Regions from separate parts of the Homo sapiens genome. Here region 1 is linked to region 2. The links come from fine-mapping of genetic effects on gene expression. A gene starts in region 2. The other region holds a variant in brackets. All regions are shown on one strand. Distances are from middle to middle. Region 1 holds the start of FAM193B (family with sequence similarity 193 member B). Region 2 holds the start of DBN1 (drebrin 1).

Region 1 (8,000 bases), 83 kb before region 2:
AATTGGACTCAGCACTGAGAGTAGATAGGTCAGCCAGCCTCAGGGAGGAGACAGTCCAAATTGCTGAGCCAGTTTTCTCATGCAGCCATTGAATAAGTTCTTAAATAGCTGGGAAGAGACAGTCTGACAGCCACAGAAGGGGCCATACTGCCCATCGGACTTTTAAGAGGTTCTTTTGATGAACGTTCATCTGGGACACAAATAGCCTTATGTTCTGAAGCCATTCTGGACAATCTTTCCACATCTGTCATCCTCAGAACTTCCTGTCACTAAGCCTGCAGTCTTTTTTTCCCTCAAGTCCCTCAACAACAGAGTAAATCATGATCCAATGGCCAGGAATTGATGTGTCTTTATTTCAGGGTCTTTGCGTGGATTTCCCTTTTCTGTGCCCTTGGGCCCTGTCTGAGGAAGACTAGAACACTCTAGCAATTTGCTTCTGGCTGGAGCCAGCACACCATGCAGAGCCATCTGCAAACTGGACTTTGGATTTTTCTTCCTTAGTCAACTCATCATTAAACCGTTCATGAAACCACTGATCCAGGTTGAAGGATGGAATGGAGAAGAGGGTGGCAGCAGAGGAATGTAAGTAACTTGCTCTGGCAACCTACTTGTGCTTTAGGACTTGCATGGACCCAACCCACACATGTCACTTCCTCTCGATGACAGGGTGTTGCTGAGCACCCCTGATTTTATGGCTGAGTAGATCAGATAACACTCAGTTCAGGTCACGTGGTCACCTAGTAGGCCAGGATCAGGCATCCAATTTCACCAGACCCCTGAAGCAAGCCAGGAGCTATTTCTAAAATGGAATATAACTATTTGCTGAAGGAAAGCATAAGTTTGCTCCAAAATCCAATGCTTGAGTATTAAGACCAAAGCCAGAACTATTTACTCTGCAGCCTGGTCCACTAAGAAAAGTTTCTCTTTTTGTATGATCCTGCCTTAAAGTTGGCAGCTTTCAAGTGACCCAGTAACTGGTCAAAATAACGTACCTAAGTACAGGCCGGGCGCGGTGGCTCATGCCTGTAATCCCAACACTTTGGGAGGCTGAGGCCGGAGGTTCAGGAGGTCAGGAGTTCGAGACAAGCCTGACCAACATGGTGAAACCCTGTCTCTACTAAAAATACAAAAATTAGCTGAGCATGGTGGTGCGCGCCTGTAACCCCAGCTACTCCGGAGGCCAGCAGGAGAATCACTCAAACCCGGGAGGCAGAGGTTGCAGTGAGCAGAGATCCCGCTACTGCACTCCAGCCTGGGTGGCAGAGATTCCATCTCAAAATAATAATAATAATAATAATAATAATAATAATAATAATAATAATAATAATGTATCGAAATACATCTATGTTACCTACCAAGTCTAAAGAAGCCCCAGCCCAAGTATTGCACCTCTTCCCTAGTAGGGAGTGTGATCTACAGCAGCTTTCCCTTCACTTTGTACGAAATATCTCAACATATCCCAGACTCCTAGATGGCTTACTGCGAGGCCCCTATATATTTGTGAGATTTATTATCCATCCTCTGGCACACACATCATGCCTTACCAAATCATCCAGGATATCTGCTATTCCCTTTTCTTAAGGTCCATCAAGATGATGTCATCAGTGCCTCAGCAGATTAGCCTGATATCCATTAGAATGGAGATTTAGTAAAAAAAATCCCTGTAAACTGGCAGGGTGCAGTGGCTCCGCCTGTAATCCTAGCACTTTGGGAGGCCGAGGCAGGTGCATCACCTGAGGTCAAGAATTCGAGACCAGCCTGGGCAATACGGGGAAACCCCGTCTCTACTAAAAATACAAAAAAATTAGGGGGCGTGGTAGCATGTGCCTCTAATCCCAGCTAATCTGGAGGCTGAGGCACGAGAATCCCTTGAACCCAGGAGGCGGAGGTTGCAGTGAGCTGAAATTGCGCCACTGCACTCCAGCCTGGGAGATAGAGTGAGACTCTGTCATTAAAAAAAAAAAAAAAAAAAATCCCTGTAAACTAAGTGGCTGGGTCCAGAGTGTGACATACCCTGAAGCAAGACAGTGAGGGTTTACCGCTGCCCCTGCCAGATCAATGCAAGGGATTCCTGGTGTTTGGTACAGAAGAATAACCATTGACCAGACCTCTTGTTGCCTATTAGAGACCAACAACTGTGCTGATCTGTCCCAAGAAGGACCGCATCTGGAAGAATGCCTGCAGTTGGGGTTCTTACCAGAATAAGTAAGTTTATCATAATGCTCTGTTGTTCTTCAAGGCCGTCTCTCTTCTGTTCTGGGCAAACTGAAGAGGTAATGGTGATGTGATGGGACTCACCCTGCGTCTTTCAAATCTTTGATAGTGGCATTAATCCCTGGGTGAGATAAGGTACTATTTTTGATTTATTTTCTTGGTAGTTAAGGAGAGCTCCAGGGCCTTCCATGTAGCTCTTCCTTTCAAAATAGCCCTTGCCCCATGGGTTAGGAAGCCAGTGTCAGGATTCCGCCCCTGTTGATACCAATAGCAACTCTGCATATAACCACAATTTCAGAGTACATAGCCCAGGCATGAGACAGACTTCACTCAAAACTTTTTTTTTTTAATCTGTGCCATGTACATGTATTATACAGTATATTCACAAAAAGAGGGGGGAAATTCCATTTTTAACAATTAAATACATAATTATTAAGTTTTAAAAATTCTCCTTTGTGTACCACTCCAAAATCCTCTCCTGCACATACTATTTTTTTGGAAACACCTAGTCGTCTCATCGTTATCACACCGGTTGTAACTATGTACCTACGTGTCTACCTTCCCCATCAGACTCGGGAACAAGGAGTCGGGTTTGAGTCCCACTGTCCCAAGCACAGAACGCTGGACTCCCAGTAGACCATATGTTGCAAATAAAGACCTTCGTCCCTTTCAACTCAGGCCGTCCACGAGCCCAGGAGTTCCAACAAAATGATGTACAGCAACCTTTTCCAGGCCTTTATGTTGCCTCAATATTTCTCACCTGCAAAATGGGAATGATCCGTACCTGCCTCGCTGTGCTGTCGGAAGGAGTCAGACGATGGGTGTGAAAGTATTGTAACACTATAGAAATTAATTCACTCATCCATTTAACAGGCAATTATTAAGTGCTAGGGTGGTGCAGCGCGATTACCACCGCATTACACGCGTTCCTCCAGCAGGTTGCATCCTTCCCGTCCCGCGTAGGGGGGGAAGGGCGTCTCCCCACCAAGTTTTTCTCCCAGCGAACTCCGGGTGGTGACCTTATTCAAAATGGCGCAGGCGGCCTCGGGGGCTAGTGCGGCGGCGCGGACTCCGCGTGCCCTCTGACCTGTTGGCAGCAGGCGGAGGGGGGGAACCGGGCGCCGCCATATTGGCTGTTGTCCTGTGAGGGGAGCGGTAGCGGCGGCGGCGGCGGCGGCGGCGGCGGCGGCGGCGGCGGCGTGTGGAGCGAGGGAGCGGCGCGAGCGGCGGCATGACGCGGAGGCGGAGCAGGCCGAGCGGCGGTGCGGGCAGGCGCGAGCGGGCTCGGGCCGCGGGGCCGCAGAAGCCCCAGGCGCCCGAGCCCCCGCCGCCGCCAAGCCTGGAGGCGGGAGCGGGTGCAGGCCCTCCGGAGGCGCCGGCGGAGCCCGACCACGACGGCCCCAGGGAGGATGACGAACCCAACCTGGTGCCCGGCCCGCAGGTAGGAGCGAGCGGGGAGACTTCGGCGGCTCGGGCGCTTTCACCTTCCCCGAGCGGGAGCGGGAGTGGGGCGGGGTTGGGGATGGGCCATCCTGCCGCGGCTGGGGTAGCAGCCTTCCCCCGGGTCCGGCGCCGAAGCTTTCTCCCCCGGGGCGGGAATGGAGGCTGGACCCCTCTCCCCAAAGCCGAGGCTCGGTCCGCGCTCCTGCGACTAGGCTGAAGCTGCTCCCCTCTCCCCGCCGCCTCCGGGCGTTCCGGCCGTACACCCACACTGGGACTGGGACTGGGACTGGGCTGTGATCCCGAGGCCGCAGCTCCGCTCTCGGCCCGCCACCTCCCCCGGGCC[C/T]ACCTGCTCCCTCAGCCACAGGCCATCTCGGGGCTCTGGGACTGGACGACTGCAGCCTCTTCCCTCTGCCCCCGGGAACGGCTCCACTCCGTCCCCTGCAGCGCCTGCAGCCGCGGCCCCCTCAGCAGCTGTGTCTCCTGGCGCCTCCTCGCCATACCCAGCAGAGCAGTTGGAGCAGACAGCCAGGCTGCCCGGAGGAGTTTTTGGTGGGGTTTCTGCACTGAGGTGGAAACCCAGCAGAACCTGCCCTTCTTCCCTCCCCTGCTCCGCAAGGCAGCCCACCCCGACCTTGAGATCCCAGGTTTGGAGAATCCTGCTGAGAGCGAACAGTAGGAGGATTCCCCAAAGCTTCCAGCTTGCCACCTGGAAGAAGGTCACTTTCTTTTGAGCAAAGGAGATAACGGGAGGTACCCTGCCAAAGTTCACTGAGAGGCGGGGGTGACATGGGCCACGGTTGCTCTGGGAGGGTTGTGGCACTCGGGGCTGGGTGGCTCTCCCTAAGCTTGCTCTGACAAAAGAGTTTTGAGTTGGTCTTTTGGCTGAGCCTGCCCAGGAAGGCAGGCTCCTGCAGGAGTCTTGGAGGGTCGGATGCGGCGCCGGATGAGGATGAGGCGTGGCGGAAGATGCGTTTGGCTCTGCAGACACTGCATCGGGCAGCAGGGGACTCTGGGAGGCTGGTGCAGCCAGAAGGCATGGCTCTTGACAGCCTTCTAGTAGAATCTCTGGAATTGTGCATGTGAGTGGGGTTGCCGTTTGGGGTACCTTCCCACAAAGCCTCCCCTGACCTCCCCAGTTGCGTCAGGTGCCCTCTCTGTGCCCACAGCCCTCTGTGCCTCCCTCTGGTAGCACTCCCCTTTCTGTGATGAAACATTGTGTTGATATGTCTGTTGCCTGCCCTGGACTGTGAACTCCACAGGGACACAGGCTATGCCATCTTTCTCTGATCTTCCACGCCTCGCCCAGGGCCTTGCTAACACAGAATAAAAATAACTAGGTGAATGAGAGAGAAAATGAATCGGTCCAGAACCCGTGCTTATTGTAACCCAGTTTTCATGCTGATTTCCTTTGTGTCTCAGATCACAATAAGGTTTTTAATTAATGAAAATGTCAGCACTTACTGAGTGTCAGAAGCTCCACCTTCATCCGCATCCCCATCTCCTATCCTAGGCTGACACTTCCGTAGGAGACTCCCCAGGTTGGACCCCCAACCCCTACTGGGTCTAGCTTCCAACCCCAAAGCTGCTTCCCCCACCAGCCTACTCTGGGACCCCCGTGGGAGTGCTGTTATCCAAAAAGGGAGAGTGGGAGAAGGGAGAGCTGGAAAGCTGTTGTCTTCTCTTCTTCCCATTCAGCAGACCATAGAATACTTCAGGGTCTCTGCCACATAGAGATGCCAAAAAGCTTGGATGATGGCTCAACCATTCAGTTTTTATTAAGGACACAACTTTGCCAAGAGCTCTAAGCTTCATCAATTTCTTTGACATCTAGGTTCCTACCATGTTCTTACCTACTCCACTACTTGACCTGCTGATTCATTTATTTGTGCCAGGCACTTTACATACCTTACTTCTAATCTTCCCACCTCACCTGTATTTCTCCGCAGCGTTTAGCACAAATATGATGAATTGACCATTGATGTGATTATTTGTTTTTATTTGTGAACTCTGCGAGTTCAGGAGCCATGTCAGTCACCATTGTACCCCTGTGCCTGGTGGTTAACAAATATTGATCAACAAACTGGAGGATATAATTATCATTACTCCATTTTTCAGATGAAGAAACAGAAACTCAGAGCAACTAAACATTTGCCCAAATGACTCCAACTGTAGGTGTCAGACAAAAGAAAAGAAAAGGACTTTTAGGTACTTTGGGGGATTTTCAACAAGGCATTTTTTTTTAAACTATAGCCCCAAAGAAGGGAAACAAACTGGTAAATTCGGTTCTAGTTATGCCCCACTTTGACCGGGGGTGGGGTCTGGAAGCAGGCTTTTGTGCCCTGGTGCAAAGCACCTAGTGTAAGGGTAGGGTTCAGTCATTGCTCTGCCTACAAGCGTGTTTTTGGTGAGGAACTCTGGCTCCCATTGCCACTCATAACCCTGTCTTACATCTACAGAGTGGATAAGGAAGATGAAACTCAGTGTCATATACCAAACTGAATCCAAAGGTGGCAAATAAGACCACTTCCAGTCCACAGGCTTGTTGTAATGCCCCAGCTCACATATTGTTTTGTTTCTGTTTTTATTTTCATTTGAGCCAATATTTTAAAGATCAAAAGGTTTCCCACACATTTGGATTTGGGGCTCTTTTTTAAACTAAAGATATGGTGATGCTGGGTCCACTTTTCCACAAGGCAGTAATCAGTAGTCTCTGAGTAGCATTTGGCCCTTTTAGACAGCGTATGCTCCTTAGGCATCTTTGGTTCTTTCCAGGCCCCTTCACTCATTGGCATAACCTGTACACATTTAAAGCAGGACCTTGAGTTTAATTGGGATCCCAAATGGCTTTCAATTGTTTCAGGCCACTAAACCACATTGATCTGTTTCCTAACAACCCAAATCCTCGTTTATAGCACAAGAAGGCTGAAACAGTTACTACCTTATTAGCAAAGGAAAACAAAACAAACAAAAAAAAAAATAAAGAACAACTGAAAAAGCAATTGTAGGAGGCAGTGGGGAATAGTGTTTAGAGACTTGGATTGAATTCCCAGCTTAGCCTCCTAGCTTTGTGACTCCGCAAGTTGCTTCTCTCTGACCCCATCAGGAACTTCACAAGAGGCCTTGGTGGCTCACGCCTGTAATCCCGGCACTTTGGGAGGCTGAGGCAGGAGGATCTCTTGAGGCCAGAAGTTTGAGACCAGCATTGGTGACATAGTGAGATCTCTGGTTCTATAAAAAAAAAAAAATCAAAACTTAGCTGGGCATGGGTTCACACCTATAGTCTCAGCTAGTTGGGATGCTGAGGCGGGAGGATTGCTTGAACCCAGGAATTAAGTTACCCAGGACTTCATGTGCACGCCACTGCACCCCAGCCTGGGGGAGAGAGGGAAACACCGTCTCCTTTTAAAATAATAATAATACTTCACAAGAGAAGCAACCTATGCAGCAGCTAGTACATAGAAGCGCCTCACCTAAGAGAGGGGGCAGGAGCTGTGCCAGGTGGCCATACAAAGCCTGAGTGTTCTGGCCTGTTAGCTCTGCTAGCTGTCTTTCATCTCTCTTGGACCACTGAGTTTGTAATCCAGTGTACACTCAATAAGCCCCCAGGAGACTTGCTAGGATGTAAGCCAGCAGTTGGTGAGGAGAGGTGAACTCATCCTACCCTTCCCCACCTCTTGTTCCCTCCACATTGTCCTCTGGGACTTTGCCCAGTCTAGTTTAAAGGGACTCTAGAGATCCGATTCTTCCACTGTTCCCTCAAGAAATTGGAGCAGATGATTAGTCAGTATCTTTAATAAAAGCATCTCATTATGTTTAATTCACTCAGCAGATACCAAAACCACCTCTGTGCCAGGACCTTTATTTGGGGTGCACAGATGGATAAGATAGTTCCTATCTTTGGGGACCTCCCCCTTAGAATCAGTGCCTACCCAGCCTGCACTACTTCCATTGTCAGTAGGAGGAAATGATACTGAGGGGATCCTTGCCACCTCTGGTTCTTCTTTGTAAGCCAGTAGAGACTCACTATATAAAAATGTCAAAAGACCTTTGAAAATGAAGACTTACCCACTTAGGATTTTAATTTTTTTTTTTAATTTAGAGATAGGATCTTGCTATGTTGCCCAGGCTATCCTCAAACTCCTGGACTCAAGTGATACTTCTCCTTAAGCCTCCCAAATAGCTGGGACTACATGTGCATGCCACTACACCCAGCTGAGTTTTAAATTTTTAATTTTTGATATCAGATGGATGATCCTAACACCTTTACTTACCTCATCTAGAATTTTTTAGAGCAGGGTCTATGTTTTAATTTATTTGGGGGGAAATATATTGTGTGTGGACCT
Region 2 (12,314 bases):
CGTCTCGCCCTGTGGCCCAGGCTGGAGTGCAGTGGTGTGATCTCAGCCCACTGCAACCTCCGCCTCCCGGATTCAAGCGTTTCTCCTGCCTCAGCCTCCTGAGTAGCTGGGACTACAAGCATGCAACACCAGGCCCAGCTAATTTTTGTATTTTTAGTAGAGACAGGGTTTCACCATGTTGGCCAGGATGATCTTGAGCTCTTGACCTCGTGATCTGCTCGCCTCGGCCTCCCAAAGTGCTGGGATTGCAGGCGTGAGCCACCGCTCCCGGCAAGGGAGGCTTTCTTAATGGCGCCAGCGAAAGTCCGAGGGCCAACGCCCATTGGACTAACTTGGGTCATGTGTCTGTCTCTGAAGTAGTCACTGGGTCTGACCCTTCCTGGCTTGGACGACATACTCCTGTTTAGAGCTGAAAGTGGAAAGTCTGCCAGAAAACGGGAGGCGGAGCAGGCCTGGCAGGGAGGTCCATGGCACTTCCTCCCCTCATGCCCAGGGCCCCGCCCCCGACTCCACTCCCAGACCTCAGAGCTGGAGCATCTGCAACTTCTGATCAGACTCCAGCCCACCTCACCCCTGCATGCAGAAATAGGGGTGCTACAAGGGGAAGCGGGGAGGGTGTGTGGGGTACCGAAATGACCTGGGACAGACCTGGGTTCCCATTCAGACTTTGTGTCTGAATGGGACACAAAGCTGTGTGTCTCCGGGCAAGTCACTGACTCTCTCTGGGCCTCAGTATTCCCATCTGTAAACTAATAATAACAATCAACACATTGACAGCACCTACTATGTCCTGGTCTCATTTTAAGCACTTCCTAGATACTTTTTGAAAATCCTCAAACTGACCCTAGGAGGTAGGTACCATCACTATCACCCCCATATTACAGTTGAAGATGAGTGATTCAAGATAGGTCAGGCACCAAGCTCAAGGTCACACCATTAGCAATAGACTCCTCAGGAGCAGAGCTAATGTGAATGAACGTGGCTGGCCCGGCGCCGGGGGCAGATACCTGGGAACAGCCATGAGCTTTGTGATGATCAAGGGGCAATCTGTGTGTGTGCTTGGTGGGATCTTGCAGAGGTTGGAAGAGGCCAGAGAAGACTCCACCAGCTCTTGCTGAAAAAGTCTTGCAGCCTCCCCTCAGCCCTAAAACCTTCCCGGAGAGGTGTGGGGGAGCACAGAACAGGAAGGTGGGGGTGGAGGGAGGAGGGTGGGGCTGTGAGGAGGGAGGGAGGGAGGGGGTTCTCCTTCTAAGCCTCCATCCAGTCCCATTTTATTCTCACAACAGGTTATCAAAAGGAAACTCAGAGAGGGGAAGTGTTTCAGCCAAGGTCACACAGCAAAGGCCCAGTTTCTGGATCTCAGTCCTCCCTTGTCTCATCTTTTCCACTCTGGGGATCCAGAAGTCATTGGCCCAGCCTCCCGCTGTGTGTAGGGGGAGCTCATGCTCTGGGGGTGGGAGAGACCGACCTGTCAGTGACTTGAAGGGTGATCGGTTTGGGGGTGGCAGACACGAAGTCCTGGTAGGAGGAACCCACCAGCCTCCCACCCACCAAGGCTGAGTGTGTGGGCTTCAGGGGCAACAGCAGCTGAAAGGAGGCAGGTTCTCAGAGGACAGTGACCAGTGGCCACCCACTCCCACCAGTCAGGGCAACTGAGAACTATGGGTCCACTGAGTTTGGCAAGTTAGGGGTTACTGGTGACCTTGGCCAGAGCAGTGCCAGAGAAAATGCGGGGAGGAGGAGACAGAGGACAGATGTCTGTCTGCATCCTATAGAAATGAGGGGATGAAGATAACCTGGAAGGGTGACGGGTGCGGAGACCAGGGGAGTGGGCTCTAGGGCATGCCAGCAGGGAACACCCTTGCTTCCCTGAAAATAGGGAAAACTGAGTGCAGGGTGTATGGGAACTCTCTATACTATCTTTGTAACTTTTCTGTAAATCTAACACTGTTCTAAAATAGAAAGTTTATTTAAAAATGTTGATGGCAAGAGGTGAGAGTGGGCGTGGCTGGAGAGTTTGTAGGTGGCTGGTGGGGAGGCAGGAATTTGAGGAAGGAAGAGCTTAGATGCATTTAGGGCTTCTGTTTTTTGGATGCAAAATTGAGTGTGCAGGAGGCTGGGGGGTGAGGGGAGCGGGGGGGGCGAGGAGCTGTGAGCTAGGACAAATCAAAGGAAGCTGGAAGAGGCTGAGGCCACAGATGCTCATGGCCAGCCATCTGCTGCCCCTCCCCGGCTGCAGGGTCTCCCTCCTCACCAGAATCAGGCTCTTCATGCCTAAGGGTGGGGGATGGCTGAAGCTCTGTCCCTCCATGGCTCTCCCCACTTCCCTTCCCCACCATGTGTCACCCACTCCCTTAGGGATCCCCATGGCAGGCCAACCACACCTACTGGCCAGTTGGTCTAGGGCACAGGGCCTGGCTGTGTCCCTGCCTGGGTGCCTCACTCTAGTGGTGGCCATGGAGAAATTGCCATGGCCTGTGGTCCCTAGACATAGTGGGCACTGACTTCCCAAGGCAGGGGCCTGTGAGTATTTTGAGTTTTAAGAGGGTTCTCCCAACTCCAAAGCGCCAGGAACACTGCCACATAGGCAGCCCTGCTCTCCTTCTCTTGGCATAGCCAATTACCCAACGCAGAACTCGGAGGCCTGGCTAGAACCACCTCCTCCTCCGCGGTGCGGTTGGGACCAGGTGAAGTTTGCTCAGGGAGGTCGAGGTTGGAGGCTTTGTAGTGGTGGAAAAGGCTTCTAAGCGCTGTGGACGGTTTCAGGGTCCCAACCTAGCAAGGAACGGAGTTCTGGAAGGCCCTGGCATGGTGTCCACTCCCTTGCAGGGGGTACTTTTCTGAGGCCCCCTCCCGTTCTGTGCTTAGAGCTTTAGGAGATAAAGGTGCCAAGAGGCTGGCCCTGAGCGTCCTTGGAGGAGCCCTGCCGTGGGAGTCTGGGGTTAGATGCTGCTTCCGGAACTCTACTTGGGACTCCTCTGGGAGGCGTGAGGCTTGAGAGAGAATGCAAAGGATCTCCTAGCTGGCCCCATCTGAGAGGGCACAGGCGTGGAGGGGAGGAGAGGCCTGGAATGGAGGGATAATGAGCTGGGTAGGGGCTGAGAATGGCCTGGAATAAGTGGTCATGGAGCCGAGATGGGGGGCTGTGGTTGGGAATTGGGAACTGGGATCAGGATGAGACTGGGATGGGTTGGACTGAAGATGTGCCGTGACACATGTTGGGGGGGACACGTGCTAAGCATGGGGCTGAAGCTGGGATGGGAAAGCAACTGGGGTGGATTTGAGGGTGGGATGCAGATGACAGTGGATATGATGGGATAGACTAGGCAAGGACCTCTCAGGGAAAGGAGACGGGCCAGGGGTGGGGTGTTGTGTGAGCTGGGTTGGGATGAAAATGGGTTTAACATGAGGTGGGACGCACCAGGAATGGAGATCAATGAAGCAATGGGTGGGGCGGAACCGGATTGGGACGGGGGGTGGGCGGGGGGAGGTGGGGACGGGACTGGGTTCGGGGCTGGAAGGAGGGCTAGCGCCGAGGTTACGGACGGGGCAGGTGAGGGTTCGGGACGTGGGTGGGGCTGGCCCTGGAGCGGCGCGCAGGGGCGGTGGGTGAGGGGCGCCCGGGGCAGGCCGGGAAGGGGGGGCGGGCCTCCCCCTGGGCCGGGCCGGGGCGGCGCTAGGACCGAGCGAGCGGAGGGAGCGAGCCGGGCGGAGCCAGCGCCCCCCGCCCCCCGCCGGCCGGCTCCCCTCCCCCGGCCGCTGGCTCGCTCGGCTCGCGACGCTGCAGAGGCTCCGAGGCGGCGGCGGCGACTCCCTCTTTCCCTCCCTCCTCCTCCGTCCGCCCGTCCGTCCGCGCGTCTGTCCGTTCGGCCCGGTCCGGCCCGAAGCATGGCCGGCGTCAGCTTCAGCGGCCACCGCCTGGAGCTGCTGGCGGCTTACGAGGAGGTGATCCGAGAGGAGAGCGCGGCCGACTGGTGAGCCCCCCGCCCCCGCCCCCGGCCCCTTTGTCCCCGCGCCGCCGCCGCGCCTTTGTTTCTCTCCCGCCCCGCCGCCCCGCCGCCGGGAAGGGAGGGGGACCCCGAAATGGTGCAGCGGGCCGGGAGGGCCGGGAGGGGCTGCCTTTGTGCGCGCCGGGGGAGGGGCCGGCGGGCCAGGCGGGGCACTGCCGGGCCCCGAGCGCCCGGAGGCGGCCCAAGGCGCGCGGTGGGAGCGGCGGCCGGACGCGGCCCGGAGGCGCGGGGTCCCGATGTGGGGCCCGGGGCCGCGTGGCCCTGCGGGAGCCCATCCCCCACCCTACCCCCCGGGCCCGGGGGACAGGTGTGCACGGGGCGGCCAAGGGCACCTTCGCCACCTTCGAGCGGGCGAGGTCCGGGCGGGGACGGGGCGGGGACCGAGCTAGCGGAGCCAGCGCAGCCTGCCCGGCTCAGCCCGGCCCGGCCACAGCACAAAGGAAAGCGAGGGCGGGGGAGGAGCGGAGCGGGCTGGGGGCCGGGCGCCCCGCCCACCGGGGGGCCTCTCGGAGTGGGCCGCCCTCCCCCCGAAACCTGGGCTGGAGTGAGGTGGAAGGATGTTTGCTGCCACATGGCGACCGCGAAGTGACTCCCTTACCGCCGCGGGTCGCGGAGGAGGCAGGGGTGAGCTCTCCTCCCCTACCTGAAGGGGACTGCGGGGACTAGGCAGCTGGGCTGGGGGGCACCGAGCTGCCTAAGGGGCCAGCTGAGATCCCTGGGAGGAAGCCCTCTGGAGAACAAGTGTGGAGGGAGCCCCCAAAGACGGCTGAAGGGGTGAACAGATCCACCGGCCCCCAGCAAGGGGCACTCGGTCCCTGATGGGGGAGGAGCTGGGCCGCCCCTCACCCCGCCCCCCAGCTGTTGTCTCCCGCTGAGCTGGGGGAGGGGATGGACCACCTGCTCTGGGGCTGGCGGCCCAGGGTGGTGGAAAAAGGAAACCGAGGGGTTCCTCACAGCCCCATCCTGGAATCCTTTAACCCCCCCGTAATACTCTTCTTCTAGGGAAGGTGCCCATCTGGTTCCTAGGCCTCCTCTCCCTGCTGGCAGATGGGAACAGGTTCTTCTTGAGGAAACTGAGGCAAAGAGGAGGGCAGGTCTGAGGGACCCCGCTTGGGCTGGCCTCACCCGCACACTGGGAGGGCAGCCAGGTGGGGACTCTGACCTGGGGGCTTCTGGAGGAGAGGATGAGATGGCTGGGCATCCATGGCATGGTACTGCAGCACTGGCCAGCAGCCAGGCCTGGAGGGATGGACGCGAGAGACAAGCTCTCGTGTCCTGCAGGTCAGTCACAGGAGAGGCCGGCACAGGCTCAGCAGGCAGGCGGCCCACCCATTGTCCCAGCCCTGCCCCAGGGGGGCTGAGATCATGGGAGGAGCTCTGGGCAAGTGGCCGGCTTGGCCTGGTGAAGGAGCTGGCTTTGGGATAAGGCCCCGCCTGGGGAGAAGCACAGCTCACCCCAGAACACCTCCTTTGCCCTCCAGCCTGGAGGGGTGTTGTCTACCAACACCCCATTTTCTCCTAAAAGCAGAGCTCTGGTGGCCTATTGCCAAGGCCACACAACCCCTGTTGCCCCACATCCTGCTCAACACAGGCCTGCCCCCACCCACCCCAGCAGCATCCGTGTGGCCAAAGCGAGTTATTCATCACTGGTGTGCGTCAGCCCCCATCTGGGTTGTGTGTGGGACACACACAGATGCACACATGTACCCTCGCACATGCACACATTCGTTCACTAAGGGCCCAGATAACATTTTGAAAAAGGGGTGTGAGGATCACTTTCTACACAAGAGAATATGAATACCCCAGGGCCCAGCATGGAACCAGGGGTGCAGTGAGGTCTGAAGACTCAGAGGCAGACCCTGCACATAGGTCCAGAGGGAGGGGTGTCTTGGGTAAATTGCTGTCTGCCCCCCGACCCTTACCTTGCCTCCAATGGGGAGGGGTGGTTGGGGGAGTTCACTCCTAGGTGGCAGGGCCTCTGAAGTGCACCACTACTCTGGCACAGGGAGCAGGGGACCCAGGAAATGAGGTTGTGTGGTGGGAAGGGCCACTGTTGTCCTGGTTGTGATATGACTCACTGTGATCATACACAAGTTCCTGGTCCTCTTGGAAAGAAAAGGGATTGGGCCCAGCACTACCTCGGATACTGAAGGCCTTTCTAGCACCACCATCCTGAGAGTGATGGTCCTGCGGGGTCCACCTGCCCTCAGCCCCCGACTCCAGCTCACCCTCCACCCCAGCTCACCCCCCATCCCAGCTCACCCCAGGGTCTCTGGAACTGCCACATTCCAGCTCCCACCTCACGCTAGTTCAGTTTATCTGGCTAGATGGCTTTTGAGTTGGTGTCAATATCACACATACTTCTGGTATGCGGTGTGCTGGACCCCAGGACCCAGAGAGCAGGATGTGCTGATTGACTGAGTCAGCGTTCCTGCCTTCACCAGGCTTACAGCTGGGGGCAGTGTCTGTCTCCAGGAGTTGGAGCTGGTGAGATGTGTAGATGCCTGGTCGCCTACCCCATCCTGATTCCCTGTGGTTTCGCCAGCTTCCACCTGGTGCACCACCAGGCTCGGGGTGCCTCTGATGTGGTTGAGAAGCACTGGTCTTTGTATTCCTGCTGGGATATGGTGGGTGCTCTGGGAGGGGCAGCTCAGGAGAGGCTGCTGGGGGCCAGCACTGGGCTCTGAAGAACGGAAGCATTCCACTGGGAATAGGCGTGGGGTAGAGGAGCAGGTCTTGCCTTCCACGTGAAGAGAACTACATAGGCAGAGGCTTCAGGGTGAGCCCTGTCCAGAACCCTGCTTGGGTCAGGGAGCCGTCCAGTGTGTCCCAAGTGTGTGGTGTGGACAGGGTGGTCCAATGGAAAGGCAGGCTGGAGGGTTTGAACTGGGGTATGGTTTCTGCTGGGGGAGAGCTGCGGCTGGAGCAGGAAGAGGTGGCCGGAGGTGGGGAGCCAGGGGCTGAGGATGGAAGGCACCCCGGGGAGCCTAGGCAGGCCAAGACAGGTCCTCTCAGAGGGAGGCTTGATGTCTACAGCAGTCTCTAGGAACTAGGGTCCCTGGGCTCTGCATTAGTTTCTCATCAGTGCATGGAGAGAGACAGAGCCTGCTTCTCCCAGGGCCCTTTGTTCCCGTGGTGGGTTAGGGCAGCAGGACAGGTGGTGGGCCAGCTGTGCTGGAAGCATCTGTCAGGGCCAGGCTGGGGCTGGGGGTAACAGTTGGACCAGGAGCTCCCAGCCCCACAGCCCACCTGTGTTCCTTCCTGGAGGTAGGAAGCCGGGAATCCAGGAAGGGGAGGGGCTGAGGCCATTTGGCCCTGGCCACAACCTCCTGAGACGTCCCCTCCATCCCTCCCGCCTTCATTTCCTTTGTCCCTTCACTTCTGTCCTTTCTCTTCTTCCTCCTCTCCTGGTTTCTCCCTCTGCTTCTCCCCTCCTCTTTCTCTTCTCCCTTGCCCTCCCTTTCTGCCTCCCCTCCTCACAGCCCCAGCCTCCTGCCTTGGCACCTGGGGAATAGGAGTTTGGAGAAGGGGTTGAGAGCCCTTTCAAACTTCAGGGACAAGGCCCTTCCTCCTAGGCCCCGGCTCTCCTCCCTCCCAGAGGGTCCTCAGCCTGGGCCTGCATGGGGTGATGGAGGAGGCATCTCTGCCTTCCCTTCTGTGCAATGGTTGCTCTGTCACCGCAGCCTATCAAAAGGAGCCAGGGCACACAAAGCTAGGGAGGAGGAGGAAGGAGGAAGGCCACCAGGTCAGCTTTCTGTTAGAGCTCAGACAGAAGGAAAGGCCAGCAGTCTCAGGAAGCCTCAGCCAGGACTGAGGCAGCCTAGGGGCTGGAAGGCCTGGAGCTCAGGCTTGGCCACCCCGGGGCCAGAGTCTGGGCGAGAGTGACTGCAGTGACCTCATCCCCATTTCAGAGAGGCGGAGATTGAGGCTGAGGGCGGGTCCCCAGGGTCCTTTGTGTTCAAGGAGAATGCAGTTGGGGTGGGCCAGTCGTGTGCCAATTGCAGGGTTGCCATGGTTACTGGGGGATGCCCAGAGCTGTTGGGAGCACCAGGTTCTCTCTTCTCCTCCTCCCTCCCCGGGGGAGGGGCAGCGGGGACCAAGGCACGTGCCAGGTAAGTTCCTGGCACTAGCCAATGGGGGATGAGGATCCTGGTAGCCAGGGAACGGTAACCAAGGAACCGTCGCCTTGGAATCTCCATCACACACCCGCTCCACTGGGTTGTAGGCTGCCAGGGCCAGGGCCGGGATGCTGCGCACTGAGCTCGACCAGCCAGCAATTTCTCCCCTCACTGCCTGCGCCCCCCTGACCCAGGCCTCCAGCAGTACCCTGCTGGGCTCCCGCCTGAACCGATGCCTGGCCCTGTTGTCATGGCTACAGCAGGAGCCCTCCCCGTTCCTGTCCTACCCACTCCATGTCCCTCTCCCTCCCCAGAGCCGTCCCCACCCAGAATTGGCGGCCTGGGCCCTGACAGTTTGACAGCCACCCCTCCCTCTCCCCAGGGCTCTGTACACATATGAAGATGGCTCCGATGACCTCAAGCTTGCAGCATCAGGAGGTAGGAATTCCAGCCATTCCCTCGCCGCCTTCTCCACCCCCTCCTCCTGGTTGTTTTCTTCCCCACCCACCTGGCTGTAGGCCACCTCCCTGCCTGCACCCTGCAGCCCCACACTTGTCTGGATCTGGCGGGTGTCCTTCCTCCAGTCATCCCTGTGTCCCCAGGGTGGGGAGGAATCTCAGAGCCTTGTTGAATGTTGGACTTCTGAGGCTGAGCCTCCAACAGGGAAAGTGACTTATCTGAAGCCACACAGCTGGGACACTTTGGGGGAAGGGCCCTATTCACCGCCTTCCCCAGAGCCAGAAGGCTTGATTGTGCCTCTGGGCACTGGCACCTGGTGAGACATGATGATGTGTGAAGAATGAGACCTGAGTGTGAAGAACAAACACTTCCTCAGTCCTACCCCCAAATCAGGCCCTGCAGGAGTCACAGGCAAAGCTACATCCCTGTGCGCCACCACCCCCACACATACCAACACAAAACTGGGACCCACAGACCCCAGAGGCCAGAAGACCCCTGGGGGTGCCTGTGGAGGCCTGGAGGAGTCTTTGCTTTGAGTTCCAGGCTCTTTTTGGGAAGGGTTTAGGAGGCAGAGAGACCTGACACTCTCCTGATTACCCTAGAAGGGGGCTTGCAGGAGCTTTCGGGACACTTTGAGAACCAGAAGGTGATGTACGGCTTCTGCAGTGTCAAGGACTCCCAAGCTGCTCTGCCAAAATACGTGCTCATCAACTGGGTATGCGGCCGGGGCTGGGGAAGGGGGCTGAGGGCCCAGAGCTGCTCATCAACTGGGTATGCGGCCGGGGCTGGGGAAGGGGGCTGAGGGCCCAGAGCTGCTCATCAACTGGGTATGCGGCCGGGGCTGGGGAAGGGAACTGAAGGCCCAGAGCAGTCGCCCTCCCCGTCGGCCCTCTGACACCCGTGGAGAGGGAAGCCCACCCTCTTCCCACCCCGGGGAAGATGCACCCTATCGTGTAGGGCCCCCCTTGTCCTTTCCTGACCCCCTCTTTGCTGGGTACTTTGCAGGTGGGCGAAGATGTGCCTGATGCCCGCAAGTGCGCTTGTGCCAGCCACGTGGCTAAGGTGGCGGAGTTCTTCCAGGTGCGTGTCAGGGGCCAGCGCTCTTGGGGGTGGGGACAGCCACCAGGGTCTGCGTGCTGGGGTGGGGATGGCGGGAGGATGGTGCCGCCTGAGCACTGCCGTCTTCTTGCGGAAGGGTGTCGACGTGATCGTGAACGCCAGCAGCGTGGAAGACATAGACGCGGGTGCCATCGGGCAGCGGCTCTCTAACGGGCTGGCGCGACTCTCCAGCCCTGTGCTGCACCGACTGCGGCTGCGAGAGGATGAGAACGCAGAGCCCGTGGTTAGTGTGTGTTTGGCACCCGTGGGCTCTGCCTGCGTGGCCTGGTGCCCGAGTCTGGCCTGCCCGGTCCCTCTTAGCTCTCACCCTTTAGGTGTCGGGGGTTCCTGGGGCATTCAGCCTGCTTATGCTGGGTCCTTCGACACTGCAGGGCACCACCTACCAGAAGACGGATGCAGCTGTGGAAATGAAGCGGATTAACCGAGAGCAGTTCTGGGAGCAGGCCAAGGTATGGAACCCTGAGCCCGGCCTGGCTGAGCCACCCCTCATGGACCCCATGGGGCAGGTCTGAGTCCCTCACTGCAGTGGCATGGCCCATGCCACGTGCCCCGCCCCCAGCGCTGGGTTAGGGAGGGGCTGGAGGGGCAGGGTCCAGGCGCCTAGGCTCGGGGCCTACCCTTGTTCGCACCGGGGCTTGCAGAAGGAAGAAGAGCTGCGGAAGGAGGAGGAGCGGAAGAAGGCCCTGGATGAGAGGCTCAGGTTCGAGCAGGAGCGGATGGAGCAGGAGCGGCAGGAGCAAGAGGAGCGCGAGCGGCGCTACCGGGAGCGGGAGCAGCAGATCGAGGAGCACAGGTGAGCCTGCCCGCCCGGAGCGCTCCAGGGGCCCCCGGGCGCACCCTGACGGGTGCTGGCTGCTTATCGTTCCAGGAGGAAACAGCAGACTTTAGAAGCGGAAGAGGCCAAGAGGCGGTTGAAGGAGCAGTCTATCTTTGTAAGTTCTTTGCCAAGGCTCCCGGTCTCTGGGTCAGGGAAGTGAGAATGGTCCCTGTGTTCCTGGGCCTTGTGGGGAGATCAGTGGCTCAGGGACAGTGGTGGCTGTTCTGGGGAGCTGCATGGGCACAGGGTGCCATGGAGCATGAGGCCTGGCACCTCATCACGTGGGGCTCTGGCCTCTGGCCGTGGAAAAAGACTACTTTGGAGAAGCTTGTGCTCTAGATTGGAAGAGAAACTCCATCTAGACCCAGACCCTCACTGACCAGGCTCCCCCTCCCCTGCCCTGGGGTTTCTCGGCGATTAGACACTGTTCTGCACTCTGAGGGGCCACAGGAGTGAGGCAGGCGGCATGGGTGAGCCTGGGCCAGTGCTGAGCATCTGCAGGCAGTGTGTACCATCTCCTTGGGAGCAGCATCTCCCTGGGAGCAGCCCCTTTGTTCCAGGGGTACTGTCTGAATCTCCACACATTGGGAATGGCCCGTAGGTCCTGTGGATTGGTCCCTGAGAATCACAGCAGAGTCACATCTCCATGCTTTGAATTTAGTATTTTGGAAATAGCTAATGTCATTCAGGACTGAGCATGGCTCAGTTCAGGAAGGGAGGTGGGTTGATACTCATCTGGATTGGGACTGTAATGGGCAGATGCATGGCTGTGGGGACTCAAACGGGCTCCGGAGTCACCCACAGGAGGCTGAGAGAGAGGAGGCAAGACAGTCCTGCAGGCAGCAGCATTAAGTCACTCCAGTCACATCTGCCCTTGGATGGGGTGGGGATGATGTGTGGCTGGTAAGCTCCATCCTCAGTCATTCATTCAACACACACCTGCCACCTGCCACATAAAGAACATGGTGGAGAACGAGCTGGGTAAGATCTTTTTTTCATAAGTTGATTCATGTATTTTTTTTTTTTTTTTTTGAGATGGAGTCTCACTCTGTCGCCCAGGGTAGAATGCAATGGCGTGATCTTGGCTCACTGCAACCTCCATCTCCCAGGTTCAAGCGATTCTCCCGCCTCAGCCTCCTGAGTAGCTGGGATTACAGGCGCACACCATCATGCCTAGCTAATTTTTGTGTTTTTGTAGAGACTGGGTTTCACCATGTTGGCCAGGATGGTCTTGAACTCCTGACCTCGGTTGATCTGCCCGCCTCGGCCTCCCAAAGTGCTGGGATTATAGACGTGAGCCACCGCGCCTGGCCACATGTATGTAACTGTGGCAAAATACATAAAATGTACCATTTCAGTCATTTTAAAATCTGCATTTCATTAAGCGGCATTAAATTCATTCACATTGTAGGATAACCACCACCACCATCCATTAAACACAAATTCTGCCCTTCCCCACTCGCCAGCTCCTGGCAACGACCATTCCACTTTCTGTCTCTATGAAGTTGACTACTCTGGAGACTGCCTATCAGTGGAATCGCACGGTGTTTGTCCTTTTGCGTGTGGCTTATTTCACTTAGCATGATGTCCTTAAGATTCATCCATGTTGTAGCATGCATCAGAATTTCCTTCTTTTTGAAGGCTGAATCATATTCCATTGTATGGATATACCACATTTTATTTATCCTTTCAGAGTGAGGTTTTTTAAAATTTTTTTATTTTTTAAATTTTTTTGAGACGGAATCTCGCTCTGTCGCCCAGGCCGGAGTGCAGTGGCGCCATCTCAGCTCA

Evidence for each region.
Region 1: its variant is fine-mapped to the expression of DBN1 in whole blood (INTERVAL, PIP 0.97).

What each region holds. Positions count from the first base shown.
Region 1 is chr5:177,549,904-177,557,903 of GRCh38, reverse strand. It overlaps FAM193B (family with sequence similarity 193 member B), which reads left to right and starts at 3,341. Exons shown (of 9, transcript NM_001190946.3): 1 at 3,341-3,655. The coding sequence starts at 3,446. FAM193B-DT (FAM193B divergent transcript) reads right to left here and starts at 3,276. Exons shown (of 3, transcript XR_941274.3): 1 at 2,975-3,276. RefSeq lists a cis regulatory region at 474-920, enhancers at 3,083-3,232, 3,253-3,412, 3,139-3,642 and silencers at 3,523-3,732, 4,063-4,172. The variant C/T (reference allele first, on the strand shown) is at 4,001.
Region 2 is chr5:177,465,096-177,477,409 of GRCh38, reverse strand. DBN1 (drebrin 1) reads left to right here and starts at 3,776. Exons shown (of 15, transcript NM_001363541.2): 1 at 3,776-3,974; 2 at 8,511-8,566; 3 at 9,190-9,302; 4 at 9,593-9,667; 5 at 9,783-9,929; 6 at 10,078-10,155; 7 at 10,348-10,499; 8 at 10,575-10,638. The coding sequence starts at 3,889. RefSeq lists silencers at 3,539-3,588, 3,599-3,978, 4,059-4,258, 4,289-4,658, 4,578-4,764 and enhancers at 3,913-4,414, 4,415-4,918, 6,489-7,034, 8,127-8,672, 8,673-9,218 and 1 more.